Regions from separate parts of the Homo sapiens genome. Here region 1 is linked to region 2. Evidence: fine-mapped expression QTL. A gene starts in region 2. The other region holds a variant in brackets. All regions are shown on one strand. Distances are from middle to middle.

What was found. PIP is the estimated chance that this variant, and not a neighbour inherited with it, causes the effect.
Region 1: its variant is the best candidate, but not a certain one, in a credible set for the expression of MTM1 in breast (GTEx, PIP 0.67).

Annotation. Positions count from the first base shown.
Region 1 is chrX:150,493,579-150,510,502 of GRCh38, reverse strand. MAMLD1 (mastermind like domain containing 1) reads right to left here. Exons shown (of 8, transcript NM_005491.5): 6 at 6,986-7,229; 7 at 457-541. The coding sequence ends at 501. It overlaps LOC124905223 (a long non-coding RNA gene), which reads right to left. Exons shown (of 2, transcript XR_007068346.1): 2 at 11,089-16,924. Among named protein-coding and RNA genes, the nearest start is that of MTM1, 67 kb to the left of the region's middle. The variant T/C (reference allele first, on the strand shown) is at 3,827.
Region 2 is chrX:150,561,340-150,573,498 of GRCh38, reverse strand. It overlaps MTM1 (myotubularin 1), which reads right to left and starts at 4,878. Exons shown (of 15, transcript NM_000252.3): 1 at 4,837-4,878. RefSeq lists a silencer at 4,397-5,076 and enhancers at 6,361-7,282, 7,283-8,205.

The sequences.
Region 1 (16,924 bases), 65 kb after region 2:
TTTCTGAAGCAGAGCCTCCCCAACCCCTTTTCCATTCCCTATACCTGACAGATGGCCCAGGAACCCATTAGAAATGGAAGGTCACTGCAGCAGTATGTGAATGTGCGTGTGGGAGAAGGGCAGGATCAGAGCCCTGGGGGTGTGGCAGCCCCCAAGTGATTCTAATCCAGATCCTAGGGTTGTTTCCCTGTCCCATTGAAATAGCTGCTTTAAGGGGCCTGACTCAGGGAAATCAGTCTCTTGAATTAAGTGGTGATTTTGGAGTCATTTAGACCAGGCCTTCAATTGGGATCCTGCTCTTAGAGTTGGATGAATTATTTAACTGATTTTCAGATCTCCTCTTTCTCAATGCTTTCAGAAGCACAGTAACTGCTTACTCTGAAATGAATTCTCACCCCACTTCCACATATGCACCCCTTGCCCACCCCTTTGGGAACACTGGCCTTAACTGCTTACCTTCAAATGGACTCATCTGTTGGGAGATATATGCATTCTGCCGTTCAGGGGTCATTGCCATAAGACCTGATCTCTGTTCCTCTTGCTAAACAGAAGATGAAAAAGACAAATTAGATTACAGCTACCAATTAATAATTAGCCTTAGGATCGCTGCGTGGGGACCTAGGACTTGGCTTTGGTGCAGCAGAAAGCATGAATAAACACACCAGCATACACTCGCATGCATGCCCCACCCTCTCGAGCAAAATTCCACAGGTATAAATAAAGTAAGATTCTGCACCTGGGTTAAAAACACAACTGCAACAGCATAGAATGGGGCAGGAGAGACAGAACTTAATAGCAAGAGCACACAGAAAAAAGTTTTAGGCATTTTGGATGTCCATCTGCTCAGGATGGGTCAGCAGTGAGATGCGGTCACCAAAAGAACAAATGTAACATTAGGCTGCATTAATAGAAGCAGAGTATGTAGAAGGAGGGAGGTGACAGTCCTATGCTAACTCTGCCTTGGCCAGACTATACCCACAGGAGTCTGGGCATGCCAGTCTCAGGGAGACCCAGACAGACTGGCTGCATTCAGAGGATGGTAAGTAATGAGAGTGGGGATTGGACTTCAAACTACCCAGACAAAGAATGGCTGAGCAAGCCAAGGATGCTGTGGCTGGGGCAGAGCAGACTGTGGGCTATGTAGTGGTGGATACCTAGCCTCTGCAGGGCTGTCATAGGGAAAGGACATTGAGAAGAGGACTGAGGCTTGTTCCTGGTGGTCCTGGCATGAACGGCCAGATGATCACATGGTCAGGTGGACACAGTCTCCAACACTGGGAGTAGCCAAACACTTACTGCCAACCTCCCGCCCTTCTCCTGACTAGTTGCAGCATAGGCAATTGGGAGGAGCTTCCTGTCTCCATCTGAAAGCTGGCTGGGTGGGCAGGGGGAGGAGCGAGCCAAGTTTCAAGGCCGCAGTTTCAGCACTCAGTCTGGGATCGGCTCAAGGAGCAAAGGGGAAGAACATAGCCAGGAGGGAATAACATGAAGGCCCCCAGACCCAGAAAAGGCATGACTTGCTCTGAGACCCTCAGCCAGTTGGTGTCAGGTTGTGACTCGGATCCAGGTCTGACTCCCAGTCCAGTGCTTGAAGCCTCACCCCACACAGTGAGGGGAGCCCGGCCATCTCTGCTCAACTGCTGCCATCTCTCTCCCCTTCTCAACCACCAAGGCAGCTCTGTCTGGGAGCACAAGCTCCAAGTCCACTTTCTGGTCTGTGTCCCCCCGAAGATGCCAGAGGACTTGCCTCTACAACACGGGCTGCCCGTGCAGTGCCTGCTTTTCCAGCAAAGGGCTTCTGGGAACCCTTCTCTGCACTCAGTGGGGCTGGTGGGAGTGGGGCGGGGTAGCGACCCAGTGCTTGGGACTGTGCCCGGCTCTCAGGCCTGGCAGCAGTTCCTGGCCTTGGTTCCTGCCAAGGCAGAGAGGACAAACACATGGCACCGGGAAGACTACACCAGAAGCGATTCCACCAGACTGGGGTTTGCTTTTCTATCCCGCCCTTAGCCTGCTTCCTGTCCTGGTCCCTGCCTCCCCCTCCACTGGAGCTGCCGTGTGGGCAGTGAGGGGCTGTTTCTCAGCTGCCCTATGGAGCTGCCCTCTCCCTGCCAAAGCATTGGCAAGGCGGCAAGGGGTGGGGGTGGGGATGGGGGGTGGGATCTGCCTTCTCAAGCTCTCATTATACTGAGCACGTCTCACCCATTATTTTATGTCATCTAGCAACACCCCATGTGGACACTGAGGAGCATGGGGGTCACATGACCACTGCCCAAGGCCACACCATCCGGATCTGCCTGAGATGGTCAGGGTTGGCAGCCATTTCTGAAGGCAGTCCTTTCGCTTTGGCTCTTCTTGTACCAGTCTCAGGACATCAGGGCAGAAGATCTACAGTCCCCAGCTTACTGATGTGACAGCAGAGGCTCAGAGAGGTTAAATGACTTGCCCAAGGTGACACGGCTAAGAAGTACAGTATCTCCTAACTGCAGACCAGGTGCTTCCGCTGCTTCTGGGGACAGATTCCTGCGTGGCTGGCTAGGTCTAAACGGTCCTTAACTCCATCCCCACCGGTTGCTGCATTAGTTTCATCAAATAACACAGTTGTACAGAGGTAGGGGTTCAGGGGCAGGGGCAGATGGAGGCTGGAGAGTGTGACTAAGGAAACAGCAGGGGAAGTGCGGTAAAGTCCGAAGGGAGGGACGGAAAGAGAAAGCCAAGCCCAGGGGCGTGCCAGACAAAAGGAAAGGCCACGCCGGGGCAGGGCAGGCTTCAGCGGGTGCTGGGGCGTCTTCATCCCGGGAAGCACACATTCCAGAGGACCCCGGAGTCTAATGGAAAAGCTGGCCAGCCTATCACTATGGAAACTGCCAAGGCCACACAGCGCTGCTGACACCCAGCCTGGGTGCCGGTGGCCAGCTCTGCAGGATCTTCAAGTCTGGGGTGCCACCAGCAAGCGACGGTCCTCCATGGTCTCTTCACCTTACGGCAGTGTCCAGAGGCACCGCCAGTCCTCTGCTCCTATGCTGGTCCTGCTGTCCCTGGCCAAAGGAGCCAGAGCATTCTCTCCAGGCCTCCCGAGGAGGCTGCTTCCTTTGTTTTGCAGATGGAGGCTCCCATCCTTTGTTCTGAATCAATGTGCTCCAAAGATAAGCCCCAAGAAAACAGTTGTTGCCTTTTGACACTGACAATTAGAATCGTTGGAAAATGGAGAAAACAGGAAATGACAAATGGTTTCAGTGACCAGGAGGAAACCGTGCCTGAAAGTTGCTGCTTAGTGACTGGGACACTCGCTTTCTGCTCTCTTATGAAGGACAGCCTAGGCCGTGTGGCCTTTTATAAACAAAGCTATGAAGGGGTCGTCAAATTTTCTAGGGCTGCAACTGTGGCACTACGTCCTGTTGTGCCAGGTGACACTGACAAGCAGCACTGAGTTCTATGCAAGCCCAGGTGTGCTTCTCTCATGGTGACCCCCAGAGAACTAAGGCCCAGCTCTTCCTCTGTCACACCCCTCCCAGCCCCCACTGTCAGACAAGGGACCACATTCACAGACAGTCTCAGCCAAGATGGCAACCTTGGAAGTCCTGGGGATGCCTTTCTAGAAGCTTTAGGCTGACGCCAGGGAGCTGTAAAGCCCCCACCTGTCCCTGGGGGTTGTGTGCTGGGCAGGAGAGAGGGGAAAGAGCCCAAACTCCACCACTGCCTGCTGGCACAACTGAGCCCACGCCAGGCACTGCACCAGCTTCACTCACCAGCTACCACATGCTAATGTCTCCTGTTTACCCAGGTGCAATCACCTGAGTGCTGCTTTCTCACCACTGCATGGGAAGAA[T/C]GATCTCATTACCAATTCAACCACTTAAGCAGGCAAAAGGACTCCAACGGGGGAAAGGCAGAGGACAAACGATTCGGGGACTGAGACAGATGCCCACAAAATGTTCCTGGATTTTAGCCGGATTCGGGCTGAAGTTCCTTGCCCTATGAGCCCTTGGAGGAGAGCATCCTGACTCAGACAAGAATTCAAATGACAAGACTTCTGGGGGATGGCAGTGAATGGATCCAAAGCCTTGTTTTATAAAGAATGTGGAGGAAGGGAGGAAGGAAGGGAGGGAAGGGGAGACTGAGAGGGAGAGAGAATAAAGAAGAGGAAGAGAAGGAAGAGGAGGAGGAGGAAGGGGAGGGGAGAGGAAAAAGGGGAGGGTAGAGGAGGAGGGAGAAGGGGAAGGGAGGACAGAAGAGGGGAGGGAGCGGGGAGATTATCTACCCCTCCATGCTAGGGAACTCCTGTCTCCTTTTCCAGCAGACACTGCTCCATGAGTGCCCCCACAGAGAGCCAGCCTGCCACACAGCAGAAGGTGCTCAGCTATCTGTCCCAAAGGTTGAGCACTAGTGTATTCCACAAGGAAAAAAACCTTCTTTTGTACTGTTTGGAAGCCAGAATTAGAAACAACTCGTTCACCCTTCTGACTTTCCCTTTGCAATGACAGGAAGATAGTATACTGCATGGGACCACCACACATTCAAGATCTGAGTTGTGGGGACCCCCACCCCCACATGGGTGGAGCCCCCTGAGACCCGTGGGCTCTGACTGGCCATGGCCCATAGATAGTGACAACATACACACTGCTATCTGAAGCCTAGTTGGAGGACGGATGGATGCTTTTAGGAAAAAATTCCCTTTAGTCGTCCCTCAGAAACTACAACGGCTTCCTAAAATGAATGGCAGGCAAGTTTTGATTGTTTCCTAAGTTCCCCCTAACTCTCAGAGCCTGTGACTCAGCTTCTCCAGAATGCCTGCAGGGAGGCAGGACCACTGGGAGTAATGAGCACGAATTGGGCCACTTCTCCCAGTGGACTGTTAACGCCGAGATCTGGGGTGGAACCCACTGAACACCTGCCCTTTTGCGTTGCCCAGAATGCAGCCAGAGGGATACGGGCCACAGTAACTCTGGGGCCCCTGAACCTACCTTCCCAAGACCCTGACGGGAAGGTATTGCTTACATGACAGTCCAGTCAGTCCCTCTGTCACTCAGTTAACAAACATGGTCATGGGTCTACTATGGGCCAGGCTCTGTTCCGGGCATGGGGATAACACCGTGTGTCTCTACTCTTATGGACACAAGTAAATCAATCAAAGCAGATAATGTTCTAATGACCACCCAGTAGGGTGAAGGGATGGAGGGTGGGCAGGTGCTGGCAGAAACCTAAGGTCAAGTCATGGGACCCCAATGGGGAACTGGAAACTGCCACACCATTTTCTATGTTAGGGGTCTTTCCTTGCCCTTCTAGAGACCTCACCCATGGTAATGATGCTGCCCTCAGGTTTGAACTGGTCTGAAGCTGTCACTGGGGGCTTCACAAAATGAATGCCACTGAAAGCAAACGGCAGAGATCTGTATATGAAATTCTTTTTACCCTTTGTTTTCTGTCTTCCCACATGATCTATGACTGCTGCAAACTCTATTCTGACTCCTCCTCAGTCTTGGCCGGTCTGGGAAGAACTTGGTTTAGATGCTGGGAATGATCCCGGGCAAAGGAAACAAATATATTTCCAGCTTGCTTTTCTTCTTCCCCTGTGGTGCCTGCATCCTCTGTCTCGCACTGACTCACAGGCTGGACTGACAAAGTGGCTGTGTTGACAGGGAGGATTTAGTGGATGCCAGGCCTGACCCTCAAAGGCCCTCAGGTGGGGCCAATTTCCAAGGTTCTTAGAGAAGATTTGGGGCCACAAATCTGCTCTGCCACTTCACTGCTGGGTGAAAGCTGTTGGCTTGAGAAGAGAGAGAATAGGTGAGGGACAATAATTCTCAAGGCAAGCTAGCTGATATCCTTTCATCTGTGGCTTCCAAAGACAGGGAAAGGCAAGGCAGACCAGGGTGGAAACAGCGACATCCTGAGGGGACGACGTCCGTTTTGCTAATTCTGTTTCCCTGGCAGCTTTGTGCTGGACAAGATTTCTCTGGTTTCAGCTGAAGAGTGAACAGCTGAGGAGCTCTGTGACTCTGAGAGAGAGAGAAATCAATAGCCCTTGAAAGGAAAGCACTGCTTGTTCTTCCAGGCCAGGGCAGGCAGGATAAAGAGAACAAGGCTGTACATACCAAAGCCGAATTTCCATTAAAGGCCAGAATCCTGGGAGGCCCTTTCAGCTTAATGACCATCTTCTGATCACTATCACTTAGAAAATGTTCATGTCTCCAGTTTTCTCTGCAGATAGTGCAGACATCCTGTGCACATTGATATTTTATGCACCAGATGCAATTCTCTGCAAAGGTCCCCTCTGGCTGGTGTCCATCCGCTTGCTCTCATGACCACTGATGCGACTCTGGGGGCAAGTCAAGCCATTCCTTCTAGACTCTAGAATCTAGAGGATGATCCCAACTCACAGGCCTCTTGGACAAGCTTGCTTTGGATTCCTTCTGCCTGTACTACCCAGACTGCCAGTCCTCCAGCAGGGCAATCCAACTTCCTGCCTCTAGGGTGTGGGAGTCCTGGGCGGGGTTTGGAATCCACAGCAGATGGCTGGCAGGAGAGGCAGTTCCCGAGCACCCACTAGGTGCCAAGCAGGCAGGTATCAGGTGCAGGGCTTCGGAGGTGCAGAAGCACAGCCCCTGTCCCCCTCAGGTTCCCAGTCTGGCCTCAGGGACAGACAGGCAGGTAGGTATGGAAACGGGGTACTGGAAGGCATACAGCTGAGGGAGAGAGCAGCTGCACCCTGGTCAATCCCCCACTCATTTCCCTGGAGGTGGGGCTGAGGCACCTGGAGCACTCTGCTTGCTTGGGTTGTCCCTTTGCCAAAGAATGCCGGGCAGAAAGTAGAGAACAAGCAGGCCCAGGAAGCACTAGAAGTCCCTCATGGGTGGACAGAGCTTTACCTTCGGAGCTGTCACCTCCTGTGTTCCTCCCAACAACCCTGTGAGGCAGGCGGGCAGGCTGAGCAGGGGACTGTGCCCCGTTGACAGATGAGGAAAGCGAGGCTCAGGGGGAAGTGACTTACCTGTGGCGTCGCAGCTAGGCAGTAGTGGAGCGGGCACCTGCCTCCAGGCCTTCGGATCCCAGCTGCCCCAGGGCGCTGCCTCTGAGGTGCTGTACGAGGAGGTGACTCGGGCCAGCTCATGAGCAAAGGAGCTGCCGGGCAGGAAGGACTCACTCCCCAGGGCCTGGCAGGACGGGGGCTGTCGCCCGAGGCTGACCTGGGGGTGCCTGGCTTCCCCAAGCTTGCAGGCTTTGTCTACATGAGTCTACAACAACCGATTGAACAATCCATCAGCTGCTTGGCCACAAAATGGTTCTGACTGATCTTGTCACTGCCCTGAGTGTCTAGCTGGGTCATCTGGGTGTTGTGGTTATACCCACCAACTGCTTTGGTGGAACGAAACCAAACAGCTTTGTGATCTTAGCTTGTCTTGGGTCATAGACTTCTTTGAGAACCAGTTATAAGCTATGGTTTCTCTCCACAGAAAAAGCACTTATGGTGTCTCCCCCTTTCCAGCCCACCAACATTTTACATCTAATTTGGGGGGGTTTTCTGGACCACTTAATACCCATCCATGGATCTCATGTGAAGACTCCCCTGGCTTGAGAAATCACTGTCTTGTTGAAAATGGGAACAAAGCTAAGTCAGATAGCTGGTTCATCAGCAATGACTTTGACCAAGCCTGATCCCACCCTACCCCACCCCACCCCAGTGACCACCCCCCACAATGGAGCACACAACTCTAAACTGGTTTGTAGGTATGTGTGTGTGAACACGCTGAGGAATCTGCAAAACCAAATGGTGAGTGCAAAACCAAACAGTCACGAGTAAATCTCACAACAACCACGTCCTGAGCTGCAGCCCTTGTTGAACTATACCCCACTAGGGCCCCAAGATTTTAGGACTTGTGTGTGGGTGGGACCTCCCCTTTCTATCATGCTTTAGAAGACAGGGATTTCACCAGAATTGAACATATTGAACATATGACCCATTTTTTTCAGCCAAAGGCAATTAAAATAACTTCATACTTGATATCCATGTCAGCAAAAGCTGCAAAACGCAAATGGGTGGCTGCTAAGAGCCCTGGTACCCTGACGAGCACACCAAGTGCTTAGCAACAGTGGTGTCCAAAGGACCAGCTGGAAGCCTGCCTTGATGAGAAGTTGCTCTTCTTTCTACATGAAGGAACACCTCTACTCTCCTGCTTTTAATACCTGAGCTGTGAGTGATCATCTATGTCCATTAGCAAACATCCCAGTGGAGAAGGAAACACTCATACCCGAAATCTAAGCTACATAGTTGGAATCACTTCAACTTATTGCAATAAACACTTACTAAGCACCTATTGTGGGCAAGTCTTTGCAATGGATAATAGTTCAGTAGATATTTTGATGTAATATTTGAAATAACAATAAAAATTGCCACCACTGAATTTATTGAGCATTTGCTGTGCTTTAGGCACTAACCCAGGTTCTTTAAATATTTGGTCTTATTCGATCTGTATAAATAGCCATCTATGAGAAAGGGACTATTATTGCCCTTATTTTACAAATGAGGCCAATGAGGCCCAGAGAGGTTAACTAAGTTGCCCAAAATCATACAGCCCACTAGTGGCAGAGCAGGATGCAAACCCAGGCTTGCCTCGTTCCCAAGCCCACATGTCGTTTGCATTGGTGTGGAGGTGTGCATGTGTTTAGTCATTAGCATGTTATATGATAAGCAAGTTTTGAAACATAGAAACTTAAAATGTGCCATTAAGAAAAGTACAGGCAAGGTTTTCCAAGGGGAGGTGTGGACCTCCGGACAAATTTTTAAGAACAAATTATAAATACTTAAAAATGGGAATAAGAAGACAACCTAACTACCTGAACAGTTTTAGAGATGACTCATGCCCACCCTCTAAAACCCAAACAAAAACAACAAAGTCAAGAAAACCCATGAAATCTTAGCAAGCGATTTCTATGTACTTGTGAAAAGGATTTCTTTACCATTCTAATGGGATTTATGCCAACCATAGAGGGCTCAGTGCCCCTCCCATGGGGTGGTTAGTGAGTACAGAGCTGAGCTCACCGGCCATCTGCAGCTTCATGTTATCAAGCTCCAGTTTGTCCTTGGAGCAAGGTTATCTGGGACATGAGCAGAGGCATTGCTTTCTACAATGGACAGTTCTTTCTGCCTGCATACCTAGCTCCTTGATAACTTTAAATACCATTTTATAGCCACACTGGAGTTTTGAAGACCTCAATATGCAAATATTACTCAGGTTCTGATTACTTGTCTGCTCCATGATAACACACTCTAAAAGCAATGAATGGGGCTTATTTGTAGAGAACTGAAGCATTTTAAGCTTTTGCTCAGGAATCCCTGGTAGCTTCCTGTGACTTGCAAGATATTAGTGATGGGTCAAGAAACAGGACCCCCCATCAGCATAACATACGCAGTGCCTCAGTAGTCCATCAGGCAGAAAAAACTGCAGATGGCACATGGAAATGACCAGCGGCGGAAGATACCCCGACAGTGTGGGCAGTTCTATTTCAGCAGCAATCAAGAGGGGGCCTGGAGCCACTCAATCAAGTGGAGCAGGATGGGAGCAAGCACTGTGCAGACCAATGCAATCCCCAGTTAACACAAAAAATAAATAAAAGAGATGAGATTCAGTCTCTTGACTGTGACTGACTGGGAGCTTTATAGCTGATGCTTGTGTCTTTTCTCCATTTTATTTAATTAGGAAAAGAAACTGCTTATCACACACTCTAAGTGTGAGGTACAACCTCCACAGGAAAGGTTGTTAGGAACATTTCAACTTCTAGAAGTTTCTAAACATAAGGTAAATCCATCTTTGTCCTTGGGATCACTGCACATCTCAGAAAGGCAAATAAATCAGTAATTGGTGGGCATAATTACTAGCTCATGGACTGACAAGGTCTACACTATTTCGAATCTCACAGAAGTAAGCCATGGGACAGATAGAGTCTGATAGTGGTGCCCCGTTTCCTGGAGGTCACACTTACTCATCCCCCTGGACCCTGGGCTTCTCATGATTGTCAGAGAGTTTGCTGGAACCAGGTCAGCCCAGTTTCCCTTCCCCTGAAAAATCCTCCAATGGCTCGCACCAAGACTAGAGATGCAAGTGCAAGCACATCCACCCTCTCAGCAGCCAGGTTTTGCGTTCCATAATGTCACGTACCCCCAGTCATACCAATCTCCTTGGAGCTCTCCAGACAGGCTGCCATGTGTGGTCGGCCCTCTGTGCTTGTGCTCCTTGGTTTGCCAAGCCTGGAATGCCCTTTCTCCATGATTGTACTCTGGGAATTCTGTGTGTCTTTCGAGATGAAGCTCCTCCACCCTGGAAATTCTGCCTCTCTTTCCAGGTCCAGCTCCTGTGGCTGAATACCCTTGGCTGACTGAACATTCTTGCTGGGCCAAGTCTTAATCATCTCTAAATCCCTCTGGTGCCCCGACAGTATCTAGCCCAGGCAAAGGGCTCAGCAAATACTTGCAAAATTCAATAAACTTTACTATGTTACTAGCTTGGCATGATGTTCTAGGCACTTGGGAGATTATAATCTGGTGAGCATTGTGCTAGTCTTTTTTTTGGGATAAACACCAATGATAAACTGAGCCTTTACTCTCATTTTAGCACATCTACTCATCTCTTTTCAATGCTGGTGGGTTTATAAAACCCATCAGTAGAACAGAGAGTGATCATAATCATATGGTGAAAATAACATCAGCTAACATATTTACTGAACATGCTTTAGTGTGCTGGGCACTGAACTCTGTGCACATGTGAATTTGAGATAGATTGTTCCTAGCTAATAAGATGAGGAAGTGGAGATGGGCTTACTCAAGTCACACAATAGCAAGATGGGGTACAGACAGAAACCAAGCTAGAAACCAAGCAACCCCTGGGTTTGGAAATGCATGGGCTCCTCCTCTGCACATGGCGAGGAGCAGTCAGGTGCTCCTCCTTCTTTCATACTGAAATAACTCTGCACTTTTGGCTATTCTGTGACACTCTGTGCTATTCTGTAGCTCAAATGGCTCTGGTGCAAGGAGCTCAGATTATGACTAACCCCCATAGATATTCAGCTGCTTTGCAAGAAGTGGATGAATGCTCTGGCTTTATAAATTATTGACGAGATTGGATATTGGCCCAATCTCCACTCTGGTGATTCGGAAGGAGGCATATGCACATTTGCAAGGTTATAGTAGTGCACTCTAATTCCACTGGCTTCTGAGAGCTTGTAGGTTTCTTGACTTAATCATTCTGGAATTAAGGTAATGGATCCTCAACACCTTTTCTTTCCCTGGCCTTTACTAACCATGTAACAGAAATGAGCAGAGAAAACCCAAGAAAGCGAACTGGAGACTTGATGAGTGTGTCAAAGATGCTCAGAGTCCAAGGTCCTCTGTGGCTCACTGACTTCAGAAGCCAACCTCCGTTGTTCAAGTCACTTGTGAGGTTACTATGCTAGAGCACTAAATATTATCCAGATAGCCCAAAGAGGTGAAGGCAGACATGTGGAAGAACCTGGATTTTTGGGCAAGTTGATGAATGCCTCCTGCCCCATATCAAAGAGAGGTGATAGGAGACAACTTTGTGAATTTGAAATAATGCACCGGGGAAACAGGAAAACGTAATGTAAGTCACGCTTCTTGGCTTTTTTCTTGCCATTACCCTACTTGGCCAAGTGCAAATGGGATTTCAATATATCATAAGTATGCATCTATTAATAACAATGCAAGAAAGCTGTACAACTGAAGTCTGAGATTTTGTAAGAAACAGAATCTCTGTAAGCATCACCATCCAACAGAACTTCCTGAGTTGATGCTGAATCATCCCAGAAAGAATAGAATGCTCTAGAGCTGTGCTGTTCAATATGGTAGCCACTGGCCACATGAAGTGTGTAGCACTTGAAATGTGGCTAGTAAAAATGAAGAACTGAATTCTTGTTTTTTAAATTTTTTATTAATTTAAATAGTTACATGTGACTGCTGGCTACAGCAGTGGACAGCACAGCTCTTTGGCATGGTGGCTAAGAGTCCAGGCTCTGGAAAAAGAGAGTCTAGACTTGAATTATGGGTTTGCCACTTCCATGCTTTGTAATTGTGGGAGAGTTACTTAACGTTTCTGTGCCTTAATTTTCTCATCTGCAAAAGGGATTAATAATTGTATATTATTCATAGAGTGGTAAAGGTTAAGAGGACTAATAGAATTAGCACGTATGCAGTGCCTGGCATGTTGTATGCACTCCAGGAAGGTTAGCAGCAGCATTAATTAACAATAATACCTCCACCATATATCGAGCCCCTTTCAATGGTCCAGGCACTGAATTTTACACAGATTAGCCTAAAACTGGACATGCTGTTCTAGGTGTGGTCTGGCCAACATGGCTCAGCAGGACCTGTGTTTTGGTAAAGTAAATTAATAATAATAATAATTGATGATGATGATGATATTATAAATATTTACTGAGAACTTACTCAGTGTAAGGCACTGACCCTTTCCTAGGGTCATTTCAATTAATGAATCCTCAGGACAATCCTATGAAGGAGGTACTATTATAATCCCATTGTAAAGATAAGGAAACTGAGGCACAAAAAGGTTAAGCGACCTGCCCATGATCACCCATTAGTTAAGTGCCAGAGCCTAGACTAGAACCTAGGTATTGTCTGATTTCAAAGCCTGTGCCAAGCTTTGTGTGATCAAAGTGCCCAAGTGAAACTTTTGTTATTGCAGTAAGTAGACTAACAGCAAGAATATTTTGTAAGGCCACTGAGGTTCTACTGTGCAATGGCCGCAGAGCTGGCTGCTGTGAGACCCAGGTGTCCTCTTCTTTTTATAATAACTGTACCTTGAAATGAGGAGAACTCCAAGTTGGGGGACCTCTGTTATGATACGTGTGGTATGGTGGGTGGAGGGGGTAGATAAATCTCACTAAAGAAATTCTGGCTGGGCGCAGTGGCTCATACCTGTAATCCCAGCATTTTGGGAGGCTGAGGTGGGTGGATCACCTGAAGACAGGAGTTCAAGACCAGCCTGGCTGACATGGTGAAACCCCGTCTCTACTAAAAATACAAAAAGTTAGCCGGGCATGGTGGTGCGTGCCTGTAGTCCCAGCTACTTGGGAGGCTGAGGCACGAGAATCACTTGAACCCAGGAGGTGGAGTTTGCAATGAGCCAAGATCACGCCACTGCACTCCAGCCTGGGCGACAAAGTGAGACTCCATCTCAAAAAAAAAAAAAAAAAAGAAAAAAAAGAAAAAAATTTTTTAAAAAAGAAATTCTACAGAAAACTCTAGGGTAGCACCAATCCCACCCATTTGGTGGATCTGTTCTGTAAATTTGCATTTTGTAAAAGTTTTCTTGGAGCAGGGTATCCCCTAAGCAAGACCTGGAAAAATTTAGGCTTTCCTGGAGTTTTTCCTCCACAAACGTATATAATTTAACTTTAACATTTCAAAATATGTTTAGGGCTGACTGAAATTGACTGGGTCCAAAATCAAATTCACTTCATCATGTAAATTCTCAGATTTGAAATTTAATTAGAGAATTAAGTTCAACTGATAAATTGCTACTTTGACAAGGGGAAAAATAACCCAATAACAAAATGGTAGAATCCATAATGTATAAAGAAATGAAGGAATTACTATCCCCTGGGCAGTTACCTCACTGTGGCACATTCCTGTGGATATCCCATAGTGCTTGGCATAGAGTGAATCTGCAGTATACTTCCCACTTCTGAGGTTGAGGCTGTGGGGCATTTTCACAGTGACCAAGGCTGTGCCTGTTGTCAGCAATGCTGGGTAATGAGGTTGGTGGGCCACTGGGCATCATGCTACTTGGGGGAGCATCAGGGACGGGGTAAAAGAGGAAGGGCATCAAGGCTCTCCAGAGTCTAGAGTTTTAGTAGCCAACAACGGCCTGTGGCAATCGTTGCCCTGACAGTTTCTGGAAGGTTTCTATTTTCTCATGATGATGACGATAATGATGATGACAATAGCTACCATGTATTGAACACATACAATGTGCCAGGCACTGAGTGAAACGCTGTAAATGTTTACTAAGTGAAACATTCAATACCCATGGCAAGCCTGAAAGATGGGTACCATTATGATCCCCACTTAACAGGTGGGGAAAATAAGGTTCAGAAAAGCAAAGTAACTTGCTCAAAGTCACACCATATGTAACTGGCAGAGCTGGAAGCTGAACCTGGAGTTGACTTACATGAAAATCCAGGCTCTTAACCGCAAATACTACAAATGCTTCAATATGAAGCAATATTCAAAACATAACCCTCACCCCAACCCCCACCTGCCTTCCCAGCCTCAAATTCTCTCAGTATCTCCCTGATGGCACCTTGGGCTTCCAAGGGAGCCATCCAACTAACCGTCATGTTCGGGCAACCGAAGAAGGGAGTGGCAGGATTTCCTTTGGAGACTTCTGGAATTAGACAGCAGTTTAATGCAAGCATCTAAATTCTCTTCCTCCCAGAGTCTCATTAAAACTACAGTAAGAGTTTGTGTTTTGTTTTGTTTTTAAAGACAAAATCCCACCAGGATAGAGAGAATAGGAGAGGAGATAACAGCATCATAATTTATGAAACTAAAATGCAGATAGACCAGGATTAACTGACTACACAGCACCAAGGAAGCTGAATCACAAGACAGCAGAGGAGAAAACTGGAAAGGATCGTGGTCTATACGGCAGAATCTTCCCAAGCCTCAGGAGGAGGAGCTCTAGATGTTCCCAGATCTGGGAGGTAAAGTGGAATGGGGGGACATGGTCAGCGTAATGGGGTTGGGCTGGAAGCTGGTTAAGGAGCAGGCAGATCTCTGAATCCCCTCTCTGACTCTGTGTCCCCAGGCATCTGCCTGTCCCCCACCCTGGAAGAGGTCTGGCTTGACCCTTTGTCTGGTGAATTTCCTGCTCTGCTTTCCTGGTCCTGCTGGCCGGATCAGTGGAGGCCACTCACTTCACCCCACAGGGATGTTCTGTGTTGCCCTACACCTGGGAACTGGAGGTACTGGAGGCAGGCTGTGGTGAGCTTGAAAGCAAAACACAGAGGGCAGTCCAATCTCTTTGGCCATATTTCTTCTGCATATCCAATACCATGTCCACAACTCTGCTAGTGTCCTGATGGTGGTGGGCTCTACACATTCCCGGGAAGCTGAAGGCAGATAATGACCAGGACAGGTCAACCTCTCTTCTTCTGAAAGCCTTCATCTACTAATGGCCTGGGACTCTTCCCTTAAATGCTTAGATTGTGTCTTCCACTAAGGTTTTTTGCTGTTGCTGTTGTTTGTTTGTTTGTTTGTTTGTTTGTTTTGAGACGGAATCTCACTCTGTCGCCCAGGCTGGAGTGTAGTGGCACAATCTCAGCTCACCACAACCTTCACCTCCTAGGTTGAAGGGATTCTCCTGCCTCAGCCTCCTGAGTAGCTAGGATTACAGGCACATGCCACCATGCCTGGCTAATTTTTGTATTTTTAGTAGAGACAGGATTTCGCCATGTTGGCCAGGCTGGTCTTGAACTCCTGACCTCAGGTGATCTGCCTACCTTGGTCTCCCAAAGTGCTGGGATTACAGGTGTGAGCCACCACACCCGGCCAAGGTTTTTGTTTGTTTGTTTGTTTGTTTGTTTTGTATTGAGGCAGGGTATCACTCTGGTCACCCAGGCTGGAGTGCAGTAGTGCAATCACGGCTCACTGAAACCTCCACCTCCCTGGCGGGCTCAGGTGATCCTGCCACCTCAGCTTCCCAGGTAGCTGGGACTACAGGCTTGTACCACCACTCCCAGCTAATTTTTGCGTTTTTAGTAGAGACAGGGTTTCCCCATGTTGCCCAGGTTGGTCTCAAACTCTGGGCTCAAGCGATCTGCCTGCCTCAGCCTCCCAAAGTGCTGGGATTACAGGTGTAAGCCACCGTACCCGGCCCCGCCACTAAGGTTTTGAAAATGAAGCAATTACAAGTTTAAGTCTATTAATAAGTGATGAAGCTATGTAGAAAAGCAGAATAATTATCTTGGATCAGGAAGGTCACATGAGGATCTACTTGGGGGTTGTCAATATTCTATTTCTTGACCTGATCAGTGTTGACAGCAGGTTTTAATTTTTTACTTCTTTTTGTTTGTTTGTTTTTGAGACGGAGTCTTGCTCTGTCTCCCAGGCTGGAGTGCAGTGGTATGATCTCGGCTCACTGCAACCTCCGCCTCCTGGGTTCAAGCTGTTCTCCTGCCTCAGCCTCCCCAGTAGCTGGGATTACAGGCAGGCACCACCACGACCAGCTAATTTTTGTATTTTTAGTAGAGACTGGGTTTCACCATCTTGGCCAGGCTGGTCTCGAACTTCTGATCTCGTGATCCGCCCTCCTTGGCCTCCCAAAGTGCTGGGATTACAGGCTTGAGCCACCGTGCCCGGCCCATTTTTTACTTCCTTATTAAACTGTACATATAGGCCTTGCACACTTTTCTGCATCAATGTTATATTCCACAATAAAGGGAAAAGGTATATACACAACTTGATACCAGTAATGTGAAACATATATTTCTACATAGAAAAAAAAATGACTGAAATACTGCACTCCAATGTGTTCACACAGTAGTTGTTTCTGGATTATTTATATATTAAATGTTTATATATTGTATTATGCCATGAGGTTTGTGTTTTCTCTCCACTTTTCTGCATTTTCCAAGTTTACTACAAAGAGCACATATTACTCTTATAATCAGAAAGTCATAAAATATATTTAAAAAGACAAAATTGAAACTAATAAGGATCAACACAAAACAGATGAGCCATCTGTGGAAATCCGCACAGAATACTACCTAAAGAGATTGGTGACGTGCATGATCTCACTAGGATGAGCACAAAGCTTGCCAGAGCCTAGGGTCTATTTCTAGGGTTGGCTCTTGGAAGCCAGGATAGTTGTTATCTCTGGGAAGAGGGAGGGGCACA
Region 2 (12,159 bases):
AGAAAGGGCATTGCTGTGTGCTGTCAGGGTTTGGAGGCAAGGGGATAAGAGATGAATGAGTTACAAACAACTTTTATTTTTACTTTCAATTATTCCCCCTTCAACTTCCCACCCCAAACATACTAGCAAGCAAAGCAAAAACTAATCTGTACTCAAACTGCTCATGCCAAGAGTTCAAAAATCAAGAAGCTGAGAAGAAAAGGGTGGCAAGACAATGACTGATTCAAAGAACTTTCTCATTTGCTGTTTGACCACGGCAAGAAAGGTTAAGCATGAGCTCCATTTCATCTGGCAGACAGGGAGCATGATCTCTAGACATGCAACAGAATTGGTTACAATGATCATGTGTGAACAATTCTAAGCTGGCCTCCTTTGTCTAGTTCAAGTTAAATAATGTTTACTAAATGTCTACTGTGTGTATAGGACCATCTTAGGTTTCAGACAATCAGAAAAAATATCTCCAACCTCGCCCTTTTTATTACAATCATAGAAAATGAAAAACATACTGAAATATGTAGGAGTTACCTATTAAGACAAACAGTCAAGGAACAGCAATACTAAACTAATACAAGTACATGAAATTCATTGCAAAGTGCAACTTACAGAGACATTTCAAGATACTGAGAAACAACTTTAACGAGAAAAGGCCGCTCAGGCGCCTGCCCTATCACTCAGGAGCCTGCCCTGTTCCAGCAAGGAGGATGGTACAGACCTGGGGAGCTATCAACCATCTCTTCCCCAGAGCCTGGATCGCTTTTTATTCTAACCCCAGAAGCACAAGCATCCAGTCTAGTATGGACTCAGGAGCTGCGGTCAGGTCTCGATTGGAAAAGAGAAAGTCTTCCATTCTGAGACACTTGGGAGAGGCAGGCAACATTCCCTGAGGCTGAGCTTGCCTTGCTGTCACCCTGTGATTGTTGGTTATACACTACTACCATTTTAGGAATACATAAAACAAAAACTTGTTATGGTATACCAGTGACATCAGGCCCCTATGAAAGAGGCAATATAAATACCTGCATATTTTAATGATGACAGAAGAGGGAGATTGAGGCAGAGAGGCCACACCTACAGCCACAGGGAAGACAGTCCAAGAACAGGAAGGACAACTGCCCTCTTATACCAGTTCTCCAAATAGCAACTGCTTATACAACACATTCATGCAATAATAATAATGCTGCACACTTTACAAAGGGCTCTGAGGCACATTTGATTCTCTGACGAACTCTGGAAACTTGGCAGGGCAGGTTTTATTAGCTCTATCTTACAGATGGAAGAGCCACTAGCAGCAAGGTTAAATGACTTGTCCAGTGACACAGAGTTAAGGAAGAGAACTGGGACCTGAACTCAGCTTCTGGAATCCAAATGCAGGAAGCTTTCTACCACCTCACACAAACAAAAGGCTCATTTACCATAGTTCCTCTGGTAGAAATAGAAAGCACTAGTAGTACACAATGCCAATTATCTAAAGAGATGCCTCCACATTCTTAAAAAGAAAAAGATGAGACTGTCGTGGTACTCACAGTGGAAAAATACACTGCAAAGATTTCCAATGAAAAATCTTCCCCCAACTACAGGATGACAACGGGACCTAACTCAGTAACTCCTACTGGGTCTCCTGATACACTCTCACTTTCAAGGCAGATAAACTAGAAGAAGGCCTCTCTTGCTCTATTATTGTTTGTAGCAACAAAATTTGGCCTCAAGAAATTTCTAAGTCCAAATGGTAAAGGGAATATAGCACTGCAAGAACGGAGGACACTGCTGCCAGCGTCGCCTGGAACCAAAAGCTCGTGCCAACAAGGAAATGCAGAGAAATGTCGAGAAAAGCAAGCTACTGGATTCCAAAAGTTTATTAAGACATAGCTAGAATAATGTATTTTCTTAAAAACAAAAGAGTTCCATATCGTTCAAGTCAATAACAGCTTTTCTTTAGTGTCTACTACATGCAAGACACTTTTCTAAGCACTTAGCATAGATTATTCACTCAGTCCCTCCAGCAACCCTTTGAGAAAGGTACTATTATTATTCTCATTTGACAGATAAGGAAACTAAAGCACAGAGTTAAGTACCTTGCCTAAAGTCACACAGATAATATTAGGTCCAGGATTCAAATTGGGGCAGGCTGCCCAATCCAGAGTCAAAATCTTCTAGGCAAATGACGGTCCCTATCCCCCACATCTGCCAAAAAGGAAATAAAGAACTAGAAAACTAGAAAATAATGAAAGCAGAACTTCAAAGAGGTCGAAAACAGGAAAGGAAAATTACTAAAGAATAATGAAAACAATCTATTATTCTGTTACAAAATCGAATAAACTTTAGAAATGAGAAACTCCAGCCTTTGAAATCCTCTGGTTACCCCTTTAAAATGTCACCTATTAATCGTTGAGAGTCTCCACTTTTCTCTTTATTTTGGAGCCCTCAATAAGAGCAAGAACCATGTGTTTTCAGTGGTTTCTAAGTAACTACATTTTGTTAATCTGCCTCTCATTTTGGAACAAAAAATATTAAAGTATTTTTTGTAACTTTAATTATTTTTCAGACCTGTAAAAGTTTAAAATTTTGCTTTGAAGCCATTGAACATACAGAATATGAGAGAACTTAGAAGGTATTAAACAGATGAACTTTTACAGTCAACTCTCATTAATGCCATTTTATTAGCGAGCACTCTTGTTCCTAAGAATGAGTGCTTCTTTTCTCTTGAGCTATTTCAAAATGAACTAGTTTCTTTACAAACCACACAAGGACTGATGATCATTTCAGATAAGAGGTTCACAGTACAAACCATTGCACAGGAAGAGAAACCCTTGTGCAAGGTAGCCTGAGAGTCCAGCAGACACCGGCATGAAATCAACAACCAATATTGACCTCAGCAGAGCTTTCTGTAGCTACAGTCAGCTATCTAACTATGAAAACAGCAAAGGATTTGAAAAATACCTCTCTAGGTATTTGAAATCACTTACTGTTTGCATGTCGGGGTGGGGGGAAATGTGAGTAAAAATGAGGCTGGGATGAGCTTACCATCTAAAAGACACTCATTGGAGAAATGATGACTCCAAAAAATCTCTTTGATTCAGAGATTTACTTTTGGATTTATTTCCTTTACTGGAGCAGCAGCTGGCAATCTAAAACTAGAAATTCAAAGTAATGCCCAAGTCATTCTCAATCATGCCAGCCTGTTTCACTGTCATTGTAAGGTTTCAGAGCTCTATTTTTTCTCATAGCGCTCATCTCTGCCAGAAAATATATCATTGTTTATTTTTTTATTGTGTGCCTCCCCACATATAAACTCTATAAGGCAGGGACCTCAGCAGTGGGGCTCTTTGCTGTCTTCCCAGTGCCCACCGTTGGCATTCTTGTGTTTGATGAATGAATGAAACCATCGACAACTTAATAAATGTAGTTAGAACTTTAAGTTAAAGAGACCAATCATTTACTAACTACACTAGAATCTACAAGCCCCCCGTGAATGTTATCCACCCTCAAGCACCCGGGAGGGTACTATACACTGGTGCTGCAGGCAGCACCACTGGTTCAAATCTCCCCCATGGTGTGGAATCTCTGAAAAGTAGATTTGATTTTGTGAAGCAGCCAAAAGCCATTCAGAATCAAATCTGGTGAATACATGATCGTGCCCAATATATATGTTGGATGAAGGCAAACGTGTCTGCAAAGTAACAGGCCTGATTGTCTTATTTGGTTGGTAAACCGATTTTGAAGGAAATTCAAAATGGTTTGCAGTCTAGCAAAATTGCTGGCTCAGTCTCAAGACTCTAAGGTGCTTATTTCACAAGGAATAATACTGAGCTGTGGTAAAAAGAATCCAGACTAGACAGACACCAAGATACCCCCAAAGAGCTGGCTTGTGATATTAGCTTTGCCATTAAGTTGCCCTGAAGCCCGGGACATATTAGTTACCCTCTCTGGGCCTCAGTTCCCCCATCCAGGAAACAAATGAACAATGTAAACTTCAGGATGCCAGTCAATTCTAAAATGCTATAATTTTATTCTTGTGAAGATCTGGTGTATCTGTTTCAAAACCAGTCGCAACCCACTTCGCCTCAAACGATGCGTGCGTCTATAAAGCTCTAATATAATTTTTGCAGCAGATTCACTTCTTACTTGCTTAGGCAAATACTAAAATTAGTTTTCACTTCCTGAGCGCAGCAAAAGACAGTTAAGGGAGGCAACCCGGCCACGGGCGCTTGCTCGTGCCTGTACATACTTCCGACTGCGTATCAGGGAACTAACCGTTCCCTCTAAGATCTTCCCTCAACTGTTGCAAAAGCAGATAAACCTCTCGTGTATGACACAGAAACACTGGCCGAGAGCGGCCATCGAGGCTTCGCGGCCAGTGCCGGGCTGCGGCCGCTCCGCAGGGCCCACCGGGGATGCGACGGACGCCCGCTCCGTGCGGAGGGCCAAGGCGAGGACCAGCCGCGGAGCGTCGCCGGGGAGGCAGGGCGGACGCCCGGCCCACTCACCGCCCCGGGACGGGGAAGCAAAGTCCAGGCAGTGGCTGAGACGTCCGCCCCCAGCTCCACGGCCAGCCAACCCCTACCCCCGTCCCGACCTTCGCCCGCCGCCGGCCGGCCACCTTGGGCGGGGAGAACGGGAGGAAGCCGGAGGTACCTGCCTGCTGCTCCCTGGCCTCAGCCCTGCCCCGCGGGGACAGCGACGGCGCTTGGACGAAACCCCCACCCAACCCTGACGGTGCGGCAAGGCCCCGCGCGACCCGCTGGCCCAAGGAGTCCCAACTTCCTCCTCCCGATCCCCTCACCACGGGTCCCCGCAGTGCCCGGCTCCGAGCCAGGCCAGCCGTGAGCGCGCACCCACCTCGGGCTCCGGGCGCCACCGCCGTTGCCAGGCTGCTCGGCTGCCGGGCCCTGCTCCGCCCCCTCTGGGGTCCGCCCCCCACGGCCTGCCCGCCCCCGGCCACCGCCCGCTGCCCGCCTCCCCGTGCCGGTTGGCGGGACTGCATCACGTGACGGGGCAGGGGGCAGGAAGAGTGCGCCGGGTCGACCTGGGGAGCAGCTCCGAAGGGCGGGGCTCTTCGCCCGAGAGGCTGCTGGGAAGCCCATTTTGAAGGGTCCGACGCATGGAGGCAGCTGGGAATTGTAGTTCGCAATATGGTGCTGGGGATGGGCGGGGCCAAGATGCCAGGGGCCATCCCTGTAAGGGAAGTTGGACTGGGCGCCGGGCGGAGGCGGCTGGGAAGCGTAGTCCCGGGACCCTTGTCTGGGTCTCCCCATTTTTCTTCAGTAAAGGGGAAATCCAGAGGGAAAACTTCTCTATACAAGACTTTAGCGGATGCCACTAAATTGAGCTATTATTGGGTACACAGGGTTGGCTGCGTAAAGTTGAGATAGTATAAGGGAAAAAGAAATTTCACTGACTCTGGGGCAGGATCTGCAATTCACAAACTCAACTAACAGCTGGGGTGTCCCTCAGCTGTGCCAGCACCTTTCCAAGAACGCAATTGAGACTTAGTGAACGGAAACATTTCAGTCCAAAATTCCTTCTACTTGTTGAGGTTTGGGTCAGACAACTATTGATACAGTAAAAAGAAAGGGACAGGAAAAAGAGAAGAAAGGCAAACTTCAAGAAGAGAATTCATTGTGTAATCAAATAAAACAAACAATCTGGGCCGGGCGCGGTGGCTCACGCCTGTAATCCTAGCACTTTGGGAGGCCAACGCAGGCGGATCACCTGAGGTCAGGAGTTCGAGACCAGCCTGGACGACATGGTGAAACCTCGTCTCTACTAAAAATACAAAAATTATCCAGGCGTGGTGGCAGGTGTCTGTAATACCAGCTGCTCGGGAAGCTGAGGCAAGAGAATCGCTTGAACCCGGGAGGGAGAGGTTGCAGTGAGCTGAGATGGCACCACTGCACTCCAGCCTGTGTGACAAAGCGAGACTGCGTGTCAAAAAAATTAAAAAAAGAAAAGACAACCTGGCACATAGAAAAATGAGCATAATATTCTTTGTACTGCATAATACTTATACGCGAGCAGTTCGAGTAAATAGGATGACTTTATCATGACCTGTTTTTTTTCTCTTGTATGTGTTAGTTCTCCAGCATCTAAAAACAGCATTTTACCTGATACCAGTGTATATGTGTACGTGTGTTTCTACATAGTCACACACATATACACATATATTCATATATCATTTATATATGCATATATATATGCTTTATTGAAGAGTCTAGACTTCTTAGAAGAGTAACAAAGCCATCCAGAATCCAACCCAACCCACTCTTTAGCCACTTCTCCCAGTGTGCCTCTTTTTGCTCTTCACCCCAAGCTCTGGCCTAGTTCCAGGGAACTTGATGCACTGGGTTTTTTCTTTCCTCCAGCCCTTTCCACTTGGTCCTCTCTCCTGGATTTGCCAAACTCCTGGAAAGACAGCAGAATAGCAGCTGCTCCTGGGCCCCCGCACAATTAGAAGTCTCCCCCACCCAGCCCTTCTTGTTGTACTGATGTCATCATTTGCTTACACGTCTGCTCTGCCAACTCCCCTCCCCAGACTATGAACTCCTTTGAATCTCATTCACTTTTGTGCTGAATTTCAAAGCACGCTCAGTAAATTTGCATGCTAGAGAGGCTCCCTGGTGGGCTGCTGAATAACTCTGGATTCCTGGTATCTGTGAATCTTAGGGCAGAGGGATAGAGGAAAATGGGGATGGGTGGAGGGAGGGCAGCAGCTGCCTGGGATACCTTGCATATAATAGGCCTGGTTAAGTGTCCCAAGATGAGGCCAAAGCTTTTCGATGGAGCTGGGAGGAGCTGGGGGTTAGGAGGTGGGGAAGGTGCAGAGCAGGGATGGTCTCATCCTAAGGAGGTAATTCCTGAAGATTTTTCCAGGGTCCAGCCCCAGCCCAGCCCCACCTCTAGAAAGATGCAATTCAACCAGAAAGGGCCAGTAGAGAAGATTAGCCTTTGGCCTGTGAAATGGAGAGAGTAACCCCTGCCGTGCCTGTCTCACGGTGTAGGTGCAGAGATCGAATGAGGCAACAGATGAGGAAGCACTTTGAAAACTGTAAAGGTTGTACACTATGGGCTGGGCGCGGTGGCTCAGGCCTGTGATCCCAGCACCTTGGGAGGCCGAGGCGGGCGGATCACTTGAGGTCAGGAGTTCGAAACCAACCTGGCCAACATGGTGAAACCCCGTCTCTACTAAAAATACAAAAAAATTAGCCAGGCGTGGTGGTGGGCGCCTGTAATCCCAGCTAATCGGGAGGCTGAGGCAGGAGAATTACTTGAACCCGGGTGGTGAAGGTTGCAGTGAGCTGAGATTGCACCACTACACTTCAGCCTGGGTGACAGAGTGAGATTCCATCTCAAAACAAACAAACAAACAAGGTTGTACACTATGGAGGGGTTACCGCCTTGCCCTTGGTGACATCGCTGTATTCTTGACTGAGCCTGCCCTCTTCCAGGCTGGGGCTGCACTCACATTTCAGTGTGTGTGTGTGTGTGTGTGTGTGTGTGTGTGTGTGTGTAGGAATCTTCAGGCTTCCCTGCATTTTGCACACATACACCCCCCCATCATGCAGGAGGCCTGTGAGAAGATGGCTGGCCTCCCTCTCCAGGGCTCCAGGACAATAGAGAGGAGGGGGCAATAGATGCGACCTCAGGCTGCTTCTTCCACAACCCTTCTGAGTAGCACAGCCTACACCTGTTTCCGCCCCTCTCCCCCAGAGTCCTCCCGCTTTTGCTAAGGCACAGGCTGGAGGGCTGGAGGCACCTCCTACCTTCAGAGGCTTCATCCTGTTCTCTGCAGTTGGGGGAGGCAGGCTAGGCAGCACCAGGAGGAGCCTGCACTCTGGATTTGGTTGGCTTCATCCCTTACCTCCACCTCTGGCCTCTCACCTCCTAGATAAGAAGCAGGCCCGAGCGAGGAAATGGCCTGTTTCCTGCTACTTCTCCCTTGGCCTCTATGCTCTGATCTCCCCAGTCCCCACTCCTGCCTCAACTTAATCCTACCAGGTTCAATGTATTGGGCCTGAGGCAGGGGAAGGTGGAGGAAAGGGAGGGGCATTCTTACTGAGGAAAGAGAAGGCTGAAGAAAAAGAAAATTAGGAATGAAAAATTTTAAATGTAGCTGTGGGTTACCATGCTCTAGCAGAAAGCACTTGGAACTAGGAAACCTGATTCAGGTCCCAGAAATTCTATAGGCAAGCTGTTGGCCTTGGGAAAGTCACTTCACCTCTCTGATCATTAACTGCTTCCTCTGAAAAAAAGGGGTTGAATGCCACCTCCCAGGGTCGTTGTGTCCCCTTGAGGATAGATGTAAATGTGATGTATAGAGTGTCAAGGCAGCAGAATTCCCAAGTTGCCACGGTGATCACTGGGGAGAGAGATGGGAGAGGATAGGGGGTAAGCCCCTGTGCACTGACACAAAGGTTCCAGGGTTTAAATCCTAGCTCTTCCATTTGTTAGGTGTGTGACTTCGGGCAAGTACACCTCTCCAAACCTCTACTTCCTCATCTGTGAAATGGGTTTTATTCATTAACTCCTTCATAAGCTTGTTGTGAAGCACATGAATGCCAGGTCTAACTTCTGAATCTAGGAGAACTGCAAAGCAGCTCTGCCTACCTCCTCCTCCCCAACCCCAGTCTGTATTTAAAAAGCAGCCTCAGCAGGATAGTGCAGCCCCTTTGGAAAATGGTTTGGCAGTGAATTACAAAGGTAAATGTACATATGGCCGAGCAATACTATTCCTAGGTATTTATCCAAGATATATGGAAACATACGTTCACAAAAAGACGTGTATTCAAATATTCACAGCAGCCTTTCAAAAATAATAGTCAAAAGCTGGGCGCGGTGGTTCACGCCTGTAATCCCAGCACTTTGGGAGGCCGAGGTGGGTGGATCACAAGGTCAAGAGATCGAGACCATCCTGGCCAACATGGTGAAACCCCGTCTCTACTAAAAATACAAAAAATAGCCAGCCTTGGTGGCGTGCACCTGTAATCCCAGCTACTCAGGAAGCTGAGGCAGGAGAATCGCTTGAACCCGGGAGGCGGAGGTTGCACTGAGCCGAGATCGTGCCACTGCACTCCAGCCTGGCGACAGAGTGAGACTCCTCTCAAAATAATAATAATAATAATAAAAAATAGTAAAAGAATGTAAGCATCTCAAATCCCCACTGATTAAACCCATAGCTAAGCCAATGGTGATATATGCACCCAATGGAATATTACTCAGCAATAAAAAGGAAGAACTATTGATATATGCTACAACTTGAATGAATCTCAAAAATATCATGCTAAATGAAATAAACTGTACACAAAATATTATATACTGCATGATGCCATTTATATTACATTTTGGAAAAGGCAAAACAATAATGATAGAAAGCAGATTTATGGTTGACTGGGGCCAGAGGTCAGCCTAGAGGTGGGTGGGGGATTGACTCCAAAGAGGCAAGAGGAAAGTTTTGGGGGTGATTGATAGAAATGTTCTGTGTCTTGATTGTTGACACGATCATGAAACCATATACAATTGCCCCCAAATCATTATACTATAAACATGAGATGGGCGAATTTCACTGCAGATAAGTTATACTTCGGTAAAGCTGAGTTTGTTTTTTTTGTTTGTTTGTTTTGAGACAGAGTTTTACTCTGCCTTCCAGGTTGGAGTGCAGTGGCACAATCTTGGCTCACTGCAACCTTTGCCTTCCAGGTTCAAGTGAGTCTCCTGCCTCAGCTTCCCAAGTAGCTGGGATTACAGGTGTGCACCATCACGCCCAGCTAATTTTTGTATTTTTAGTAGAGACGGGGTTTCACCATGTTGGCCAGGCTGGTCTTGAACTCCTGACCTCAGGTGATCCACCTGCCACAGCTTCCCAAAGTGCTGGGATTACAGGCGTGAGCCATCGTGCCCGGCCCAATAAAGCTGAGATTTAATCCCAGCACTTTGGGAGGCCGAGGCAAGCAGATCACGAGGTCAGGAGTTCAAGACCAGCCTAACCAACGTGGTGAAACCCCGTCTCTACTAAAAATACAAAAATTAGCCAGGTGTGGTGGCACGTGCCTGTAGTCCCAGCTACTCAGGAGACTGAGTCAGGAGAATCGCTTGAACCCGGAAGGCAGAGGTTGCAGTGAGCCAAGATCACTGCACTGCACTCCAGCCTGGGTGACAAAGCAAGACTCTGTCTCAAAAAAAAAAAAAAAAAAAAAAAAAAAGCTGAGATTTAAGCATGGGAAGAAGACAAGAAGACATAGCCTCAGTTAAGATTCCTAAGGCTGCCCAGAATTGTCTATCTCTTTTTGGTTGGTTGGTGGGTTGGTTGTTTTCTAAGAGGACTGGGGTCTTGAAGGGGAGAGAGTGGTGATGCTTGCCGTGAAAATAACAAGGATGTGCTACCCAGTCTGTTCACCATCACAATCAAGAAATAGAACATTTCTATCATTCCCGAAGCAGGAGAAGACAGAGCCCAGCCTAATGGGGGCAGGACAGAGAGAGCTTACCTGGATGCAGGAGACCTGGGATCTACATCCCAGACAGAGAGAGCATTACCCTTGTGGGCCCCAGGGATCAGAAGCTTCCCCCAGCTTCTCTCTGGGAGCTGCCAGTGATCTGCAGGCACATGTGCAGTGGGGCTCCAGGAGACCGTGAAAGCCAACCTGTACACTCTGCTCCTGGGCAGACGAGACTGCTATTGCTTCTCACTGGTATTTTGCTTCCACTTTCTCACAGAGCTCAATGTTAAGTTGGAGCCTCCTTGAGGAGGCCCCGCTGGTCAGCAGGTTCTATTTTGCCAGGTGCTAGATGGAAGTTTGAGCCAAGTAATGGGACATGAAAACACATACAGAGAGAAACCCAGGTTCTTTGTCTCAGGGCTTCTTGGACACCGGGGCCAGCACAAAGGGCTTATGGTCATGACATCACAATGTTTCCAAGTGCCAGTCCTGTTTGCTTCCTTCATCACTAGGCACATATAGGGTATTCACCGAGGACTTTGAAGTCTAGTCCACAGGCAACACCATGACAAAATTGCCCCAGTCAGATCACAAATAAAACTAAACCCAACTCACAAGATCCTCTCCTTCTACCCCCAATTACAAAGACTTAAATAAGATAAAAATAAAAGAAACCTCAGTTGTTACACTAAATAACTTTTAAGAAAGTAAGCCCTATGAGGAAATGTTTCACGATACAGTCAAGTGTGTTTTACTCAAAACAGGCTTTTTAAAAAGAGCTTTATCTTTTATTTGAAGGGCCTGATTCATGTTGAGGTGTGTAGTATGCTACTTCTCAAACACAGATTTGTAGACCCAAGATTAAAACCAAGAGAGAATATATGAGAAGGGAAAAAATAAAAGATTAAAAAAACCTGAGGTCGGGTTCAGCGGCTCATGCCTGTAATCCCAACACTTTAGGAGACCAAGGCAGGTGGATCAGTTGAGGTCCCACTTGAGGTTTGAGACCAGTCTGGCCAACATGGTGAAACCTCGTCTCCACTAAAAATACAAAAATTAGCCAGGTGTGGTGGCAGGTGCCTGTAATCCCAGCTACTTGGGAGGCTGAGGCAGGAGAATCGCTTGAACCCAGGAGGTAGAGGCTGCCGTGAGCCGAGATTGCACCACCGCACTCCAGCCTGGGTGACAGAGTGAGACTGCCTCAAAAAACAAAAACAAAAACAAAACTGAATGTCAGCAAATATTTGCTGAACCTGAACGAAATTGTGTTATTTAAGATTAATTAAAATGAATAAAATAGGAATAAACTTAATCAAGGAGGCAAAAGACTTTTACAATGAAAACTGCAAAATATTGCTAAAATAAATTAGACACAAATAAATGGAAAGACAGCTGTGTTCAGGGATTAGAAGACTCAATATTGTTAACATGTAAATACATTCCAAAGTGATCCACAAATTCAATGTAGTCGCTATCAAAATCTCAACAGCAGAGATATTTTATTTTTAGACTAGAAAAATACATCATAAAATTCACATGAAAATCAAGGGGCCCCAAATAGCCAAAACAATCTTGAAAAAGAAGAATGAAGTTGGAGATCTCACATTTCCTGATTTCAAAACCTTACAAACCTATAGTAATCAAAATAGTGTGATACTGGCATAAAGACAGACATTTATACCAATGGGATAGAATAAAGAGACCAGACAGAAACCTTAAAATATATGGT